4 separate regions of the Homo sapiens genome follow, and regions 2, 3 and 4 are each linked to region 1. Evidence: fine-mapped expression QTL. A gene starts in region 1. Each other region holds a variant in brackets. All regions are shown on one strand. Distances are between the middles of the regions.

Region 1 (2,684 bases):
TGGTAAAACCCCATCTCTACTAAAACATACAACATTTAGCTGGGCATGGTGGCGCACACCTGTAATCCCAGCTACTCCAGAGGCTGAGGCAGAAGAATCGCTTGAACTGGGGAGATGGAGATTGCAGTGAGCTGAGATTGCACCACCGAACTCCAGCCTGGGTGATGGAGAGAGAGTGCCGCAAAAAAAAAAAAAAAAAAAAAAAGCCAGGCGTGGTGGGGGGTACCGGCAGGCCCAGTACTTGGGAGGCTGAGGTAGGAGGATCACCTGAGCCCTGGGAGGTCAAGGCTGCAGTGAGCTGTGATACTGCACTCCAGCCTAGGTGACTGGGTGAGACCTTGTCTAAAAGAAAATAAAATAGGGGAAATAGATGCCCAAGGTCTGACAGGGGAGATCTCCCACCCCACTATGGAGGTCAGGGGTTAGCTTGGAAAAATGCATAGGAACTCGGCTGGGCAGGGTGGCTCATTCCTGTAATCCCAGCACTTTGGGAGGCCAAGGCGGGTAGATCACTTGAGGTAGAAACCAGGAGTTCGAGACCAGCCTGGCCAACATGGTGAAACCTCGTCTGTACTAAAAATATGAAAATTAGCCTGGTGTGATGGTGCGCCTTTAATACCAGCTACTTGGGAGGCTGAGACAGGAGAATTGCTTCAACCCCAGAGGCAGAGATTGCAGTGAGCCAAGATTGTGCCACTGCACTCCAGCTTGGGTGACAGAGCGAACTCCCACCGTCTCAAAAACAAAGAAAAAAAAAAGTTGGGGGGAATAGATGCCCAGGGTCTGACAGTGCAGATCTCCCCGACCACCCCATGCACGTCAGGGGTTACCTTGGAAAAATGGGACCCGAGTCTCTCCCCAGCCCCCAATCCAGGCCTCACCCTTCGTGTGCCCACGCATGGAAGAGTCCTGAGCCTTGCTGGGTTGAGGCGGTTGGTCATTGTAGAGCAGGAAGGCGAGCTGCGGGCGGATAAACGGAGGCAACGTGAAATTCCTCCCAGGCAGGGCAGCCCTAGAGTTTCGCCCCTAGTTGGCCCGGGGCCCCCTTCACCTGGCTGGTGTTGCTCCGGTACAGCGGCTGCAGGCTTCGGCCCACGGCCCCCTCCGGGCTGTTGATGAGTGCCCTGCCGTCCCGCCAGCCTCCGGAGCTCTCGTCCAGATACTTGTACTGCAGCCCTCTCTGCGCCGCCTCCCCGGACCCTCTAAGAGCTGGCAGCTTGTAGACCACGAACCTGGAGGTCGGAGAATGCACAGAAATAGGAGAGAGGGAAGAGAAGGCACCCCAGGGTTCCCCGAGGAGGTAGCCATCCCGGTTGAGTGACCGCAGCCGGACCCCGGGGCGATGGTAGGCCCCCCGCTGCGCACTCACCAGTCTACAGGCTGCCCGGAGTCCCCGTAGCAGGTCAGGGCCCCGGCGGGGACGCACAGCAGCGCTGCCAGCAGCAGCGGGATCATAGCTGCTATGGGGCTGAGATCCAGGAATCTGTGTCGGGACTGCGGGGCGCTGGGTTACATCAGAGGCCAGGACTGGCACCTGGCGCCTTTCACTTCCCTAAACTTGCCTGGGAACCGGGGCGGGGACATCACGAGGGTACAGACTCCTCCCCCGAGACGCGATGCTGCGTTTTGGAGAGGCAAAAGGCAACGCTGAGTCTGCCCAGACCACGCCCACGACGGGCCCGGCGCTCCAGCGTCTCCTGGAGCCTGGCCACCGTTCCTTTTCGTGGTAGCTAATCCCAGCCCACGCTCTTCTGTCTGACCCAACTCCCGCCCGGGTTTCTGGATCAGGCACAAGTTTGTATTTTATTTTTTATTCCAGCCCTACAACCTGGGTCCAACTCTTGGGACCTTTGTTCTTCCTCTTTTTTTTTTTTTTTTTTTTTTTTTTTTTTTGAGACGGAGTTTCACTCTTGTCGCCCAGGCTGGAGTGCAATGGCACGATCTCGGTTCACTGCAACCTCCGCCTTCCTGATTAAAGCGATTATCCTGCCTCAGCCTCCCGAGTAGCTGGGATTACAGGCGCCCGACACCACGCCCGGCTAATTTTTGTAGTTTTAGTAGAGACGGGGTTTTTCCATGTTGACTAGGCTGGTCTCGAACTCCTGACCTCGTGATCCACCAGCCTCGGCCCCCGAAAGTGCCAAGATTGCAGAAGTGAGCCACTGCGCCCCTTAAGAAGCATTTGTGTTCCAGTGTATCTTCCCCTTTTTCTTTCTTTTTTTTTTTCCTTCCTTTTTTTTTTTTTTTTTTCCCGGACAATATCTCGCTCTGTTGCCCAGGCCGGAGTGCAGTGGCGCAATCTTGGCTCACTGCAACCTCTGCCTCCCCAGCTCAAGTGATCCTCTCACCTCAGCCTCCCGAGTAGCTGGGATCACGGGCACATGCCACTATGCCCAGCTAATTTTTGTAGTTTTTTTTTTGAAACACGGTTTCACCATGTGGCTCAGGCTGAACTCCTGAGCTCAAGGGATCCACCTGTCTTGCCTCCCAAAGTGCTGGGATTACAGGCATGTAATCCACGCCACCCAGACTCTCCTTTTTCATTCTGCACGTTTTCTCCAGGATCCCCTGAGCTAGCAAAGAGGTGACTGTATGTTTGTTTTTTGTCGTTTTGAGACAGGATAATGGTTTCTCACCCAGGCTAGAATGCAGTGACTCCATCACAGTTCACTGCAGCCTCAACC
Region 2 (2,684 bases), 31 kb before region 1:
GAGTTCGAGACCAGCCTGGCCAACATGGCGAAACCCCGTCTCTACTAAAAATACAAAAATTAGCTGGGCGTGGTGGTGGGCGCCTGTAATCCCAACTACTTGGGAGGCAGAGGCGGGAGAATCGCTTGAACCTGGGAGTCGGAGGTTGCGGTGAGCCGAGATCACACCATTGCACTCCAGTCTGAGCAACAAGAGTGAAACTCTGTCTCAAAAATAAATAAATAAATGAAATAAAATAAAATATTAAACTCTACTCACATTTATCACCCACTTTCTCCTCAGTTTCTCCTTGACACTCAGCACCATCCATCATACTGTGTATTTTTGCTTATTTTATTTCATGTCTATCCTTCTCCAATGTCAGCCCCATAGTTGGTGAGGGTGGGGGGGTGGAGTTGTCTGTTCTGTCCACTGCTGTGTCCCTGCTGTTTGGAACAATACCCAGCACACAGTAGGTACTCAATAAATGTTGGGTAAATTGATGCTTGAATGTCCCTTTGCAGTGGCATGCACCTGTAGTCCCAGCTAGCTACTTAGGAGGCTGAGATGGGAGGATTGCTTGAGGTCAGGAGCTTGAGACCAGCTTGGGCAACATAGCAGGACCCCATCTCTAAAACAATTTAAAAAATTTAAGCCAGGCGAGGTTGCTCACGCCTTTAATCCCAGCACTTTGGGAGGCTGAGGCGAGCAGATCACGAGGTCAGGAGTTTGAAACCAGCCTGGCCAATAAGGTGAAACTCTGTCTTTACTAAAAATACAAAAAAGTTAGCCGGGCTTGGTGGCACGTGCCTGTAATCCCAGCTACTCAGGAGGCTGAAGCAGGAGAATCGCTTGAATCCGGGAGGCAGTGGTTGCAGTGAGCCGAGGTTGCGCCACTGCACTCCAGCCTGGGCAACAGAGTGAGATTCTGTCTCAAAAAAAATAAAAATAAAAATAAAAATAATTAGCTAGGTGTAGTGGCACACACCTGCTGTCCCAGCTACTTGAGAGGCTGAGGCAGGAGGATCACTTGATCATTCATTAATTCCACCAATATTTATTTATTTATTTATTTTATTTTTTTTGGAGACAGAGTCTCACTCTATCCCACTGGGCTGGAGTGCAGTGGTGCGATTTTGGCTCACTGCAACCTCCACCTCTCAGGTTCAAGCCATTCTCCTGCCTCAGCCTCCCGAGTAGCTGGGATCACAGGCACCCACCACCATGCCTGGCTAATTTTTGTATTTTTAGTCGAGGCAGGGTTTCACCATGTTGGCCAGGCTGGTCTCTAACTCCTGACCTTAGGTGATCCACCTGCCTCTGCCTCCCAAAGTGCTGGGATTACAGGTGTGAGCCACCATGCCTGGCCCCCACCAATATTTATTAAGCACCTACTATGGGCCT[G/T]GCACTAGCCTAAAAGCTGGGAAATCAACTGGAAATAAAACAAAAATTCTTGTCTTTGGAGAGCTGACATTCTATTAATAGCAGGAAGAGACAGAAGATAAACAATAGGCGTTAGAAGCTAACCCCTGTAATCCCAGCACTTTGGGGAGCTGAGACAGGAGGCTTTCTGGAGCCCAGGAGTTGCAGACCAGCCTGGGTAACATAGCGAGACCCTGTCTCTACAGTAAAACAAGTCAAACAAACAAAGACCCAATAGGTATTAGGGCTGAGACCAGGACCAGGGTAAAGCAAGTAATTATTTCTTCCCCCAGAACATTAAATTAATTTTTGAAAAACTTGAAAAGTAGATAAATGAAAACCCAACATTATTTTAAGTTTACATATTTTATTTATAACCAAGCCAGAATGTGTTATAATTTTACTGTCCTGGTTTTAATGAAAGCAAACTCATCAATAATACTATTTTCATTGAAACCATTAGACATTTTCAAAGACACATTAAAACACATATAGGTTGGTGCATACTTTTTTTTGGCTCAAGTTACAATATGGCTAGGCACAGCCTGTTGGATTCTGTCTTTATTTAATTTTCTTTTTCTTTTTCTTTTTCATTTGAGATGGAGGACTCTCTATGTTGCCCAGGGTGGTCTTGAACTCCTGGGCTCAAGCAATCCTCCTGCCTCAGCCTCCTGAGTAGCTGGGATTATAGGCATGTACCACCACATCTGGCTTAAATTTTGATATTTTGGCTTATGATAGATTTTTGGCATTAATTTTAGGCTTTTCAAGTATTGCAATAAGATATTAGTTTTTTCTTTTCTTTTTTTTTTTTTTTGAGACAGTCTCACTCTGCTACCCAGGCTGGAGTGTAGTGATGTGATCTCGGCTCACTGCAACCTCCACCTCCCTGGTTCAAGCGATTCTCTTGCCTCAGCCTCCCAAGTAGCTGGCATTACAAGTGTGTGGCACTATACCCAGCTAATTTTTGTACTTCCAGTAGAGATGGGGTTTTGCCATGTTGGGCAGGCTGGTCTCAAACCCCTGACCTCAAGTAATTCACCCTCCTCTGCCTCCCAAAATGCTGGGATTACAGGCGTGAGCCACTGTGCCCGGCCTCTTTTTCTTTTCTTTTTTTCTTTTTTTTTTTTTGAGACAGGGTCTCTCTCTCTGTCACCCAGGCAGGAGTGCAGTGGTATAATCAGCTCACTGCAGCCTTAGCCCCCTGGGCTCAAGTAATTCTCCCACTTCAGCCTCCCAGGTAGCTAGGACTACAGGCACACACTACCACACCTGGCTAATTT
Region 3 (2,684 bases), 21 kb before region 1:
CGCCGAGAACCCGTTTGTGGTCGGCATGTTCTGCTCCTTTGAGACTCGGCGCCACCTCTGCATGGTCATGGAATATGTGGAAGGTGTGGCTGCCTGCGGGGCTGCAGGGAAGATGGGGCCGTGCTCACTGGTCAGGGCTGCGGGGTGGCCTGCCTGAGCCGCAGTCTCCATATTGATTAGTCGGCCTGTATGTTTATCCATCTATTTATTTCTCCAGTCATTGATTTGTCCATCCATTCTACCTATATATTTATTCAGTCATCTATTGGTTTATTTGTTTTTCATTTCATTCAGCATAAAAACATTCAGTCTGACCCATTATCCATCCATCTATCCTTCTATCTACTGATGTGCTAATCCATCTGTTTTTCCATCCATACATCCATGAACCTGTTTTTATTTATTTATTTATTTATTCATTTATTCATTTATTTATTTTTTGAGACAGAGTCTTGCTCTGTCACCCAGGCTGCAGTGCAGTGGTGCAATCTCGGTTCACTGCAACCTCCGACTCCCAGGCTCAAGCGATTCTTATGCCTCAGCCTCCCGAGTAGCTGGGATTATGGGCCTGTGCCACCATTCATGGGTAATTTTTCTATTTTTAGCAGAGACAGGATTTCGCCATGTTTGCCAGGCTAGTCTTGAACTCCTGACCTTAAGTGATCTGCCTGCCTGGGCCTCCCAAAGTGCTGGGATTACAGGCATGAGCCACTGTGCCAGGCCTATTTTATTTTATTTATTTATTTTTGAGACAAGATCTCACTCTGTTGCTCAGGCTGGAATGTAGTGGTGCGATCACAGCTCACTGCAGCCTCAAATGCCTGGGCTCAATCAATTCTCCCACCTCAGCCTCCCAAATACCTGGGATTATAGGTGCGGACCACCACACTCGGCTAATTTTTGGGAGGCCAAGGTGGGGAGATCACAAGGTCAGGGGTTCAAGACCAGCCTGGCCAACATGGTGAAACCCTGACTCTACCAAAAATACAAAAATTAGCCAGATGGCACACTCCTATAATCCCAGCTACTCACGTGGCTGAAGTGGGAGGATTGTTTAAACACAGGAAGCAGAGGTTGCAGTAAGCCGAGATCGTGCTGCTGCACTCCAGGCTAGGCTGAGATCATGCCATTGCACTCCAGCCCTGGCAACTGAGCAAGACCCTGTCCCG[CA/C]AAAAAAAAAAAAAAAAAGTTTTTTGTTTTTTGTTTTTTTTTGTTCGTTTGTTTTGTTTTTTATGCAGTCTCCCTGTATTGCCCAAGTTAGTCTCCAACTCCTGGGCTCAAGCAACCGTCCTGCCTCAGCCTTCCAAAGTCCTGGGATTACAGGCACGAGCCACCGAGCCCATCCCATATACCTGTTTATTAATCCACCTTTCCATCCATCCCTCACATCCCGCAATTTGTCTTTGTGGTTGTCCATCTGTTTATCCATCCGTATGTCTGTTTACCATTATACACCTATTTTTCTTTTTTTTGGGGGGGACGGCGTCTTGCTCTGTCTCCCAGGCTGGAGTGCAGTGGCGCAATCTCAGCTCACTGCAAGCTCCACCTCCTAGGTTCACACCATTCTCCTGCCTCAGCCTCCTGAGTAGCTGGGATTACAGGTGCCCGCCACCATGCCCGACTAATTTTTTTTGTATTTTTAGTAGAGACGGGGTTTCACCGTGTTGGCCAGGATGGTCTCGATCTCTTGACCTCATGATCCGCCCACCTCGGCCTCCCAAAGTGCTGTGATTACAGGCGTGAACCACCACACCCGGCTTATACACCTATTTTTCCTTTTTCTTTCTTTCTTTTTTTTTTTTTTTTTGAGACAGAGTCTTGCTCTGTCACCAGGCTCGAATGCAGTGGCGCTATCTCGGCTCACTGTAACCTCCACCTTCCAGGTTCAAGTGATTCTCCTGCCTGAGCCTCCCGAGTAGCTGGGATTACAGGTGTGTGCCACCACACCTGGCTAATTTTTTGTATTTTTAGTAGAAATAGGGTTTTCACCATGTTGGCCAGGCTGGTCTCGAACTCCTGACCTCAGGTGATCCTCCCACCTCAGCCTCCCAAAGTGCTGGGATTACAGGCGTGAGCCATAGCTTGCGGCCCATATATTGTTTTTAATCCATCCGTGCATGTATTCACCCAAATGTTAATCCATCTATTGTCCAAAACCACACATGCTGTGGCTATTATGACACATACATGATCCCTGGGGCCTCAGCTGTGCCTCCTCCAAGCCTTCCAGTCAACCATCCAGTCACTCAACGAACACCTCCTCATCATCTCCCTCGTGTCACATGCTGTGCTAGGTGCCAGTGACACAGAGGAGACCCAGGCACAGACATCTCCCCGCCATGGAGATTCCATTCTGGTCTGTATAGACAGACAATAAACAAGCAGAGCAAGCCAAAGAGATAAGGACATTTATTTATTTATTTATTTATGGAGTCTCGCTCTTTCACCCAGGCTGGAGTGCCGTGGCGCAATCTTGGTGCACAGCAACCTCCATCTCCCAGGCTCAAGGATTCTCATGCCTCAGCCTCCTGAGTAGCTGGGACTAAAGGCGCGCCTCCACCATGCCCAGCTGATTTTTGTATTTTTAGTAGAGACAGGGGTTTCACCAGGTTGGCCAGGCTGGTCTTGAACTCCTGACCTCAGGTGATCAGCCCACCTTGGCCTCCCAAAGTGCTGGGATTACA
Region 4 (2,684 bases), 830 kb before region 1:
CATAAGTAAACTGGGCAACCCATGACTCAACACAGTGGCATGTTTGCAACAGAATGAGGCAAAAAGTCAGAAACAAACCCTTTTGGTATAACATGAAAGGTACATTAATTGCAATACTAAGTTACTGGAAACTCCAAACAGCCAAAATTCTACTTTGTGATAAAAGAAAATATGGCAGGCCTGGGCTGGGCGCGGTGGCTCATGCCTGTAATCCCAGCACTTTGGGAGGCCGAGGCGGGTGGATCACGAGGTCAGGAGATTGAGACCATCCTGGCTAACACCGTGAAACCGCATCTCTACTAAAAATACATAAAACTAGCCGGTCTTGGTGGCGGGCGCCTATAGTCCCAGCTACTCGGGAGGCTGAGGTAGGAGAATGGCATGAACCCGGGAGGCGGAGCTTGCAGTGAGCCAAGATCGAGCCACTGCACTCCAGCCTGGGCGACTGAACGAGACTCCATCTCAAAAAAAGAAAAAAAAAAAAGAAAAAATATGGCAGGCCTGGCACAGTGGCTCACACCTGTAATCCCAGCACTTTAGGAGGCAGGCACAGATGGATCACCTGAGCTCAGGAGTTCGAGACCAGCCTGGCCAACCAGGTGAAACCACGTCTCTACTAAAAATACGAATATCAGCTGGGCATGGTGGCAGGCGCTTGTAATCCCAGCTACTTGGGGGGCCGAGGCAGCAGAATCACTTGAACCTAGGAGGTAGAGATTACAATGAGCCAAGATCGTGCATTGCACTCCAGCTTGGGCAACAGAGCAAGACTCTGTCTCAAAAAAAAAAAAAAAGAAAAGAAAAAGAAAAGAAAAGAAAGAAAGGCTGGGCGCGGTGCCTCAGCACTTTGGGAAACTGAGGTGGGCAGATCACAAAGTCAGGAGTTTGAGACCAGCCTGGCCAATATAGTGAAACTCCATCTCTACTAAAAATATAAAAATTAGCTGGGTGTGGTGGTATGCACCTGTAGTCCCAGCTACTCGGGAAGCTAAGGCAGGAGAATCGCTTGAACCCAGGAGGCAGATGTTGCAGTGAGCCGAGATCACGCCACTGCACTCCAGCCTGGGCGAGAGGCAGCTCCGTCTCAAAAAAAAAAAAAAAAAGATAATACAGCTACAAAGAATAACAAAAAGAAGGCTGGGTGCGGTGGCTCATGTCTGTAATTCCAGCACTTTGGGAGGTGGATCACCTGAGGT[CAGG/C]AGTTCAAGACCAGCTCAGCCAAAGTGGTGAAACCCCATCTCTACTAAAAATACAAAAATTAGCCAGGTGTGGTGGCAGGTGCCTGTAATCCCAGCTACTTGGGAGGCTGAGGAAGGAGAATCGCTTGGACCCAGGAGATAGAAGTTGTAGTGAGCAGAGATGGTGTCACTGCACTCCAGCCTGAGCGACAGAGCGAGACTCCCTCTCAAAAAAAAAAAAAAAAAAAAAGAATAACAGGCCGGGCACAGTGGCTCACACCTGTAATCCCAACACTTTGGGAAGCCAAGGCGGGTGGAGCATGAGGTCAGGAGTTCAAGACCAGCTTGGCCAACCTAGTGAAACCCCATCTCTACTAAAAATACAAAAATTAGCCAGGTGTGGTGGCGCATGCCTGTAATCCCAGCTACTCGGGAGGCTGAGGCAGGAGAATCACTTGAACCTGGGAGGTGGAGGTTGCAGTGAGCTGAACTCACGCCATTGTACTCCAGCTTGGGCAACAAGAGCGAAACTCCATCTCAAAAAAAAAAAGAATAACCAAAAGAATCAAAATTTTGACCACCTTTGTGTGCCATAGTTAGATGACATCAAAGAAACACACCAGAACTGCCCAAGGACTATTCATTTTCCTGGGTGGTGTTCCCAAGTATATTCTTACTGACATGGCATCCAATTTTAAAACATCCAATTTTGGCCGGGTGCGGTGGCTCATGCCTGTAATCCCAGCACTGTGGGAGGCCAAAGCAGGCAGATCACCTGAGATCAGGAGTTTGAGACCAGCCTGGCCAACATGGTGAAACCCTGTCTCTACTAAAAATACAAAAATTAGCCAGGTATGGTGGCATGCACCTGTAGTCCCAGCTACTTGGGAGGCTGAAGCAGGAGAATCGATTGAACCCGGGAGGTGGAGTTTGCAGTGAGCCAAGATTATGCCAGTGCACTCCAGCCTGGGCGACAGAAAGAGACTCCGTCTCAAAAGTAAATAAATAAATAAATAAGAAGCAATTAAACTGAACTGGCTATAGAACACTAAGACCCTTCACAAGCATACTGAAGCCAAATTCAAATCCAATTCACATAAATTTCTAATCTGTGGCCTGAGGAAACAATATCACTAATGACTAATTTATAGGGAAATGAAATTTAGGCTTAACCAGGCACAATAGGTCAATTAATCTCTGATTACATAACCAAAAGTTTCACCTGTACAGAATGTGAAAATAGGTGATTCAAAAATTTAAGCTGCTGGAACTCTAAATTATCTTGAGGTTTAAAGGAATGCCATTCTGGGGTTGAGACACCTCACAGGCAGCGGTAACAGAGCCAGCCAGGGAACCTTCCATTCCCTGATTACAGATTAGCTTTCTTTCTTACCTATATTGTTTTGTAAAATATTTTAAATGACAAGCAAGTCAGGAAAGACCCCTTCCCTCTTAAGGATTGATTTCATTATAGACTAACTTCCCTCTTACTTTTCTTACACAAAG

Which allele goes with the higher level. Alleles are on the strand shown, and positions count from the first base shown. SD is a standard deviation of normalised expression in the study named. Not every link is listed here.
For the expression in monocytes of the gene that starts at base 1,529 in region 1, allele CA in region 3 goes with a higher level than allele C (moderate effect, 0.66 SD a copy in CEDAR).

The links. PIP is the estimated chance that this variant, and not a neighbour inherited with it, causes the effect.
Region 2: its variant is the best candidate, but not a certain one, in a credible set for the expression of DNASE2 in monocytes (TOPMed, PIP 0.63).
Region 3: its variant is the best candidate, but not a certain one, in a credible set for the expression of DNASE2 in monocytes (CEDAR, PIP 0.77).
Region 4: its variant is the best candidate, but not a certain one, in a credible set for the expression of DNASE2 in whole blood (TOPMed, PIP 0.87).

Annotation. Positions count from the first base shown.
Region 1 is chr19:12,879,921-12,882,604 of GRCh38, forward strand. It overlaps DNASE2 (deoxyribonuclease 2, lysosomal), which reads right to left and starts at 1,529. Exons shown (of 6, transcript NM_001375.3): 1 at 1,370-1,529; 2 at 1,052-1,232; 3 at 882-960. The coding sequence starts at 1,455. RefSeq lists enhancers at 1,060-1,687, 1,347-1,456 and cis regulatory regions at 1,351-1,911, 2,651-2,684.
Region 2 is chr19:12,848,750-12,851,433 of GRCh38, forward strand. The region is part of intron 7 of MAST1 (microtubule associated serine/threonine kinase 1); the gene reads left to right. Among named protein-coding and RNA genes, the nearest start is that of MIR6794, 2.2 kb to the right of the region's middle. The variant G/T (reference allele first, on the strand shown) is at 1,384.
Region 3 is chr19:12,858,657-12,861,340 of GRCh38, forward strand. It overlaps MAST1 (microtubule associated serine/threonine kinase 1), which reads left to right. Exons shown (of 26, transcript NM_014975.3): 12 at 1-83. Among named protein-coding and RNA genes, the nearest start is that of MIR6794, 7.7 kb to the left of the region's middle. The variant CA/C (reference allele first, on the strand shown) is at 1,170.
Region 4 is chr19:12,048,054-12,050,737 of GRCh38, forward strand. All of the region lies in intron 1 of ZNF878 (zinc finger protein 878), which reads right to left. Among named protein-coding and RNA genes, the nearest start is that of ZNF878, 3.6 kb to the right of the region's middle. The variant CAGG/C (reference allele first, on the strand shown) is at 1,197.